2 separate regions of the Homo sapiens genome follow, and region 2 is linked to region 1. The links come from fine-mapping of genetic effects on gene expression. Tissue or cell type: subcutaneous fat. Region 1 holds a variant in brackets; the other region holds the start of a gene. All regions are shown on one strand. Distances are from middle to middle.

The links. PIP is the estimated chance that this variant, and not a neighbour inherited with it, causes the effect.
Region 2: RMI2 starts here. The variant in region 1 is fine-mapped to the expression of RMI2 in subcutaneous fat (FUSION, PIP 0.95).

Annotation. Positions count from the first base shown.
Region 1 is chr16:10,594,070-10,598,386 of GRCh38, reverse strand. No RefSeq gene overlaps it. Among named protein-coding and RNA genes, the nearest start is that of EMP2, 16 kb to the right of the region's middle. RefSeq lists enhancers at 861-1,155, 3,582-4,098. The variant G/C (reference allele first, on the strand shown) is at 2,466.
Region 2 is chr16:11,343,748-11,347,907 of GRCh38, reverse strand. RMI2 (RecQ mediated genome instability 2) reads right to left here and starts at 2,449. Exons shown (of 2, transcript NM_152308.3): 1 at 2,142-2,449. The coding sequence starts at 2,436. All of the region lies in intron 1 of LOC105371082 (a long non-coding RNA gene), which reads right to left. LOC105371083 (a long non-coding RNA gene) reads left to right here and starts at 2,696. Exons shown (of 2, transcript NR_135174.1): 1 at 2,696-2,795. RefSeq lists silencers at 2,121-2,200, 2,221-2,380.

The sequences.
Region 1 (4,317 bases):
AACAAACGGCTTCCCTTTGGGGAGGTTATCGGTGTGCAGCCCAGGGTGGGCAGGGCCGGATTTCTGCCCTGGGCACTCCCCGGAGGTTGGAAAGAGGCCAGAGCCAGGGCCCTAGCAGGGCTGCTGGAACAAGACTGATTCCTGGCTGGGTGCAGTGGTTCACGCCTGTAATCCCAGCACCTTGGGAGGCTTAGGCAGGTGGATCACTTGAGGTCAGGAGTTCAAGACCTGCCTGGCCAATGTGGTGAAACCCTGTCTCTACTAAAAACATAAAAATTAGCCTAGTGTGGTGACGGGTGCCCGTAATCCCAGGTACTCAGGAGGCTGAGGCAGGAGAATCGCTTGAGCCCAGGAGGCGAAGGTTGCAGTGAGCTGAGATTGCACCACTGCACTCCAGCCTGGGCGACAGAGCAAGACTCCGTCTCATAAAAAAAAAAAAAGGATTGATCCTGGAGCAGGTTCCAGGCAGGGACACACCTCCAGTTCTCTGCCCAGGGCACCCCAGGTTGTATGGAGTTATCCTCTTTCATTCGTGGAGTGATGAAGCCTCACAAGCAGGGACCACCTGCAGGTTGTGAGCAGTGCTCTTTGATGAGGTGCCCCAGGTGCCTGGCTAAGTGCTCTGTAGGGACCCAAGGATATGTCTCACCATTTCTCAACAGCCTCATGACTGGTCTCTCCTTTTCTAATCTTGTCCCCTCCAATCCATTTCTCCCACAGTAGCCAGAAAACATGAATTGGCTCATTCACTCCACTGCTTCAGCTGTTCACAGGCTTCCACCATCCTTAGGATCAAATTCAAATTCCTACCATGGTCAAGGAGAGCTGCTTAATGTGGCCCCTGCCTGCCTCTCTGGTTTCTCCTTATCTCTCATTCCCCCAACTCATTCCAGCCATAGCAACTTCCTCCTTTCCATCACACGCACGTGACTCTTCCCTACCCCAGGGACTTTGCACCTGCTGTTTATGTCCTCTACAAGAAGTTTTTGTTCCATGGCTGGTTACTCTTCTAGTCTAACTGTCACCCTTCAGAGAGATCTTCCCAGATCACTGCCTCAACAGCGCCCTCACCACTCTCTCTCTGTCACCCTGTTTCATTTCTTCCTAGCACTTGTCATACTGAAAGTGTCTTGTTTTCTTGCTTATTGACTGATTGATTTTTCCCCCCATGGTCTATCTCTACCCCTAGAGAGGGTGGGGACCTTGTCTGGCCTGTTCACTGTGAGTGCCTGGGCCTGGCAAATGCCCAAAAGGTGTTAGTTGAATGAAGGAACAAAAGAAATTCACAAAGAGTTTCAAAGCATGAAGTGTGTGCAAGTCATTGTAGGGGCTTACAAATTACACATCACCACTCTGAAGGTAATATACCCGAAGGGTTATTCTAAGTGCTTTGCGTATTCGAACTCAACCTTTCCGCAGTCCTAGGAGGTAGGGAGTAGTAGTAGTAGTAGTCCCATTTTACAGATGAGAAAATGAAGGCACGGAGAGGTTAAATGACTGTGTAATGTCACACAGTCAGTCAAACCCAGGCATAGCCAGCTCCATAAGCTGTAGTATGTCTATGGGGAAACATGACGTGTGATGCAAACTTCTTAGCTGGGTTGCACAAGGAAAAGAAAAACCATCTCCTTACATTGTGGCCACACCCACATGGGTGAAATGAAGCTGCTGAAGGTGGGAGCGGGGGACAAGGAATTCCTTCAGGAATCCTAAAAGAAGCAGCAGAATTCCATGGTGGGTAAATCAGAAGCACAAAGTTCTAGGACCCATGGCTTCTCACCACGCCAGACTGTTTCCCCATCTCCAAAGTGCAACAGTGACACGATGGTCCTGGGCATTTCTCTCAGTTTTATGATTCTATTAAGTGACAAATGGGTGCCACCCAGTATCCCAGAAACTCCTGGGGTGGGTAGGAAATGGTGGCGAGTGGGGCTCAGACAGCAGAGAAAGGCATCAAAATCTAGGTCGGAAGTGGGAGTCAGGTGGAAAGGAGCGCACAGCTGTGGCTTCTGTTTGCCCAGTGCCCAGTCCTCCTTTCTCTGCTAGCTGCATGCATTCCCTTTTGGGAACTACCCTTTGGCCATGCTGTACAGATCTGGGGGATGGGGGTGTCTAATAAGGGGTTCTGGCTTCCCCATGGCCATGGGGGTGGACATATAACCCAAGCTAAGCCGATCAGATCCTCTCTCCAAATAGGAGTCCCAGCCCCAGGGAACCAGGGGTGGGGGAGGAAGGTGGTACCCACTTCTAGGCTCCTCCCAAGTCATGCAAGATCTTGTATCTCCTGTGGCTGGGGAGGCTCTTGCTGCACGCAGAATCCTCAGAGGGCTCCCCACAGGCTCCCGCCCCAGCCTTTCCCTCTGACCTCATTCCTGCCACTTTCCCCATCGTGCGCCATGTTTCAGCAACACGGTCACTGATTATGCCTCAGACAGGGCAAGCTCCTAGTCACCCCAGGGCACTTG[G/C]ACTTGCTGCTTCCTCGCTCAGAACATTCAGCGGCAGACCTTCCTTCTCACGGTGGTTCTTTCTGGTTGTTTCAGCCTTTATCCGCGGTGTCCTCAGGCCCTGCCCTGCCCCTGTGGTCAGTGTCTACCACGTCCTCCAGCTATATTTTCCTCAGGGCACATATCGTGAGCTGAGGTTGCTTGGCTGCCTTATATGTTGATTTGCTTTTGTCGGCCTCCCGTTTGGTGTAAGCCCCTTCTCTGAGTGTTGCGCCTCCTCCTACCTTCCTGGGCCAGGCAGAGCCCCTGGAACTTGGCCAGCGTTTCAAAAAAATGATATTTGAGGCTGAGCACTGTGGCTTATGCCTGTAATCTCAGCACTTTGGGAGGCCGAGGCAGGTGGATCACTTGAGACCAGGAGTTTGAGACCAGCGTGGCCAACATGGTGAAACCCCATCTCTACTAAAAATACAAAAATTAGCCGGGCATGGTGGTGGCAGGCTCCTGTAGTCTCAGCTACTCAGGAGGCTGAGGCAGGAGAATCACTTGAACCTGGGAGGCAAAGGTTGTAGTGAGCCGAGATGGCACCATTGCACTCCAGCCTGGGCAACAGAGTGAGACTCTGTCTCAAAAAAATAAAAATACAAAATTTTAAAATACAAAATTTAAAAATATTTGAATAAAAGAATAAATTAATTAAGGGGGCAGTGGAGTGTGTGTAATGCCAAGTAATCCTCTATAGAATACTTCAGAGAGTTACAATGAGGGAATTCTTTGTCCTGTTTTCAAATGGGAAAACTGAGGCCAGGCAAGAGACAAGGAAGTCATATCAGAACGCCAACCTGGCCTTCCATCCCCTTGGGAAGAACTTCTCCAACCTCCCTCCATACAGGAATACTTGGGCTTCAGAATCACTTCCCACAAAGGGGAGCCCGGCACCCAGGGCCAGGGAATCCCCAGCAGTGATCTTCCCTGAGCTTCCAGGAAACGATCTGTTTCTCTTCTTTGTGAGACACACAAAGCGTTCTCATGGAGGAGGGGCATGTGCACGGAGGAGCCCTTGAACACCTGGACCTGGGGCACCTGGGAGGTGGGAGGATGGGAGGAACCCAGCAGCCGAGGACAGGTGGCAGACAAGCTGGGTCATGCTGTGCGCCCGTCCAAACGGATCCGCCTGGCATGTGGGTGGTGTGGCCCAACTGGTTGGGTGAGTGTAGGGTGTGGGCTGGTGAGGGTGCCAGCCAGTGAACTGTGACACTCCTGCCCTGCAGATGGGGAGGCACCTGGTCTCCCTTCCTCAGAACAGCCCCAGTCTGCACTGACTCTGGGTTTGAGACCATCAACTGAAAGGACCCAGAGGTTCCCTGGCATCCTTCCAGGAACGAGGATGTGCTGGGCACAAGGTCACTTGAGTCAGGCTTCCTGAGAGCATCTCACCTCCTGGTGGAGGGAAAGGAGGAAGTATTCCGGGGCTGGAAATGAAATGGAGATTGGGTCAAGATAAATGCATGAAGAGGCCACTAAGGAGAGAAAGCTTGAGGGGGACACAAGACAGTTGAGTGTGGTCATTAAGAATTTGGAGATCCTTGGATATTCCAATTATCCTGATTTGATTATATGAATGTATCAAATTATTACATGTACCCTAAAAATATGTATATCTAATATATCACTAAAAATAAATACATGAACTTAAATGAAAAAAATAATTTTGGCCATGCATGGTGGCTCAAGCCTGTATTCCCAGCACTTTGGGAGGCCAAGGTGGGAGGATCACTTGAGCCCAGGAGTTCAAGACCAGTCTGGGCAACATAGTGAGACCCTGTCTCTAAAAATAGTAGCAATAATAATATTTTTTTTTAAAAGAATTTGG
Region 2 (4,160 bases), 750 kb before region 1:
TCGGGAGGCTGAGGCATGAGAATCGCTTGAACCCAGGAGGTGGAGGTTGCAGCAAGCCATGACTGCGTCACTGTACTCCAGCCTGAGAGACAGAGCGAGATTCTGTCTCAAAAATAATAATAGTAATACATAAAAATTTTAAAAGCATTTTTAGTTCGCAGGACACATGAAAAGAGGAGGCCTGTAGTTTGCTGACCCTGTCCTAGACCAACGCTGCGGCTGAGGGCAGGCAGACAGAGGGAAGGCTGATGGGTAAGGCAGTGGGAAGACGGAACAGGAGCATGTGGCAGTAAACGAGTCCTGATATTTTGCATCCTCACTGTGAGCCAGGTGCAGTACTAAGGCAGTTGTTTACTTATTGAATCCACACAACACGCAGGAATGATTAGCTCCTTTTTACAAAATAGTACAAGTCCAGAAAAGTTAACAAGAGTGCTCCAGGCAGCTCAGTTGGGAAGGGGTGGAACCAGAAATTCGACCTAAGCCTTTCCGAGTCCACAGCAGCTCAGGCCAGACCACAGCCCTATCTGCCTCTAGTTAGACTCCAAGACTGAGCAGGAAGGGCCCTTAGGAATGAAGTGATCTTGGCCTGATTTCCCAGGAGAGGGAGCTGAGGTGAGGGAAGGCCCATGGAGCCTCAGAGCTCCTCAGCTTAGACCTCACATCCTCTAGAAGCCTCCCCGGGCCACTCAGCACCTTGCACATCCTCATGGCTCCCCAAAGATCAGCGATCCTCTGCGACACTTGCTCACTGCCTGTCTCCCAGCAGACTCTATCTAGGTCTCGGCTGCAGCCCAACACTGCACATGAGGGGCTGATGTACAACACGTGCTCAACTGACATCCCAGGGAACAAGTGAGATGGATGCCCATTGCCTATCACTCAAGACTATTGGTTCTTGGAGCACTTATGTGTCAGGAACTGGGCCAGATGCTGAGGATACAGTTGTCAGGACCACACAGCTCTGGCCCTCCAGTAGCTTGGGCTGGCCCAGTGGTTCTCAAAGTATGGCCCCCAAACCAGGCGTGGTGGTACAGGCCTGTAGTCCCAGCTACCCAAGGAGGCTGACGCAGGAGGATTGCTTGAGCTCAGGGCCAGCCTGGGCAACACGGTGAGTCCCCTATCTCAAATAAATAAAACATTTAAAAAGTCGAAAGTATGGTCCCCAGACCAGCAGCATCAGCATCACCTGGGAGCTGGTTAGAAATGCAAATTTCCAGCCCCACCTGGACCTCCTGACTCACAAACCCTGAGGGTGGAGCCCCAGCCATCCCAGCTTTACCAAGCCCTCCAGGAGAGACTGATGCTGGCTCAAGTTTGAGCATCAGTGGTTTAAGAGAGGAAGCAGGCAGGGCGCAGCGGCTCATGTCTGTAATCCCAGCACTTTGGGAGGCCGAGATGAGCAGATCACTTGAGGCCAGGAGTTCGAGACCAGCCTGGCCAACATGGCAAAACCCAGTCTCTGCTAAAAAATACAAAAATTAGCCGGGTGTGGTGGCACATGCCTGTAATCCCAGCTACTCGGGAGGCTGAAGCATGAGAATCGCTTGAATTCGGGAGGTGGAGGCTGCAGTAAGCTGAGGTCGCGCCACTGCACCCCATCCTGGGCGACAGAGTGAGACTCCGTCTCAAAAAAAAAAAAAAAAAAAAAAGAGAGGAGGCAAACATGAGTGAGCTACAGCCCAAGACAGTTCAATTAAGGAGAAGTACAGGAGGGTCTCCCGTTCCTAGGGGCTAGGGAGGACTTCCCTGAGAAAGGCACATTTGAGCTGAGACGTTAAGGATGAGCAGAAGTTTCCCAGGACAGTATTTCCCAAAACAAGGATATCAACTGGGAGAGGGGGCTTGTGACAAACGAAGGTGCCGGAGTCCCTCCCCAGAAGATTCCCACTAGGGGTGGGAGAGTCCCAGGAATCTGTATTTGTAAAAGGGACGGCAGGTGATGCTTATCATCAGATCAACTTCACCAAGGAGGGACCGGAGCAAGGGTACCCAAGCGGGGACCCGCAGGGGCAGAGGCCCGGAGGAGGGCCAGACCCGCCCCGCCCCCGTTCGAGTGTCAACAACAAGATCGAATCTGGCCTCGGCAACTTCTCGGCGGGCAGCAGGGAAGAGGGCGCCCGGTAAGGCCCGGGCATTACCTGGGACTAGACAGGGCCGCCCGCGCGGCACCCGCTCCAGGCCGCGGACCGAGAAGTCCCCGCTCGGGTCCCTCAGCCGAGCCTCGCCGCGGTCCGCCATCACTACCCTGCCCTGCATCCACACGGCCGCCAGGTCCAGCGGCCCGCGGCCCGCCGCCGCCCGTGACAGCCGCCACGCGCCCGGGCCGCCCTCCGCGTCGCGCCGCAGCTGCTCCGCCAGCACCTTGAGTGGCGGCGACCTCGGAAGCCGCACCCCCGCGGGGCCGCCTGAGAACGAGTCCGCAGCCGCCGCCATTCCGCCTCGCCGCACCCTTCCGCCCCGCCTCCGCTTTCCCGCCAACTTTGAGAAGCAGCGGGGCCCGGCCCTCAGCCACCAATCAGGAGCGCGCTGGCAGAGCCGGCCAATGGTCGACGTCAGAAGGCGGGACCGCCGGGCGAAGAGGCCCTCTCTAGCAGCCAGGAGTGCGCATGCGTAGATAAAAGTAAATAAACGCCCTCAAGTTAGGAATGAACGGAGGAAATGGGTTAAACGAGAATAAATAATTGAAGGCAGAGAGGTAAAGAACTTCCTCTTTCAACGCATCTCAAAATTTGGCGTGGATGCAGATCACCTACAGAGTATGATTATTCATCTTTACATTGCCTTGTTTTGAGGTTAGTAAATACTGAAACGAATTAAGAGTCCGTGTTTATTGGGAGTGAGCAAGAATCCAGTCAGGAGATAAGGCTGGGGAGGGAGACGGGGAGAGCTGGCAAACTTGCCTTTTCTTTTATTATTATTTTCAGTTATATTTTAATAGCATCAAATAATTTTAAGGTTAATAAAATATATTGCTATTTTTCAGACAAGAAATGCACATTTATTGTAAAAAAAATAGGGGAAAAATGTAGAACAAGAAAATAATTGTAAAAGCCGCTTATAGATACCCACTGTTAATTTTGGGGTATATTAGCCTTTAGGCTTTAAAATATGTGTGTGTATTTTTTTTGAGACAGGGTCTCACTCTGTTGCCCAGGATGGAGTGCAGTGGCACAGTGACGGCTCACTACAACGTTCACCTCCCGGGCATAGGTGATTCTCCTACCTCAGCCTCCCAAGTATCTCGGACTACAGGCGTGCACCACCACGTCCAGCTAATTTTTGTATTTTTTGTAGAGACAGGGTCTTACCATGTTGCCCAAGGTGGTCTGGAACTCCTGGGATCACGCAATCCTGCCTCCTTGGCCTCCCAAAGTGCTGGGATTACAGGCGTGAGCCACCATGCCTGGCCTATTACTGATATACAAATAGTGTTTTGTATATTGTTTTCACTTAATAATGAACATCTTTCTGTATCAGCAAATATCCATCTGCTTCCTCTTGAATGACTGCATAATACTCGATTTGTCTTATCACATATTAAACCAATATCCTACAGTTGGACATTAAGGCTATTTCCAATTTTTCACTTTATAAATATATCCACTGTGGACCTACTTAAAAGATAAATCTTTTTTATTTATTTATTTATTTATTTTTTTGAGACGGAGTCTCACTCTGTCACCCAGGCTGGAGTGCAGTGGCGCCATCTGGGCTCACTACAAGCTCCGCCTCCCAGGTTCCCGCCATTCTCCTGCCTCAGCCTCCCGAGTAGCTGAGACTACAGGTGCCTGCCACCACGCCCAGCTAATTTTTTGTACTTTGTTTTAGTAGAGACGAGGTTTCACCGTGTTAGCCAGGATGGTCTCGATCTCCTGACCTCGTGATCCACCCGTAAAAGCTAAATCTTTTTGTGCATCCTTCAAATAAAATTCCCAGGAATCTCTCCCTAAAAATTGGATGTCCCCAGTCAGCAAAGTCCACAGATCCTAAATCAGGCAATCCTTAAAGTCAAGGTCAGTTCTTAAGAGAAACTTTGAGTTCCCAGGGCCTCCTGCAGTACCAGGCATTCAGAGAGTATTCAGCAAGAGCTTGATTTTTTTTTTTTTTTTTTTTTGAGACGGAGTCTCGCTGTGTCACCCAGGCAGGAGTGCAGTTGT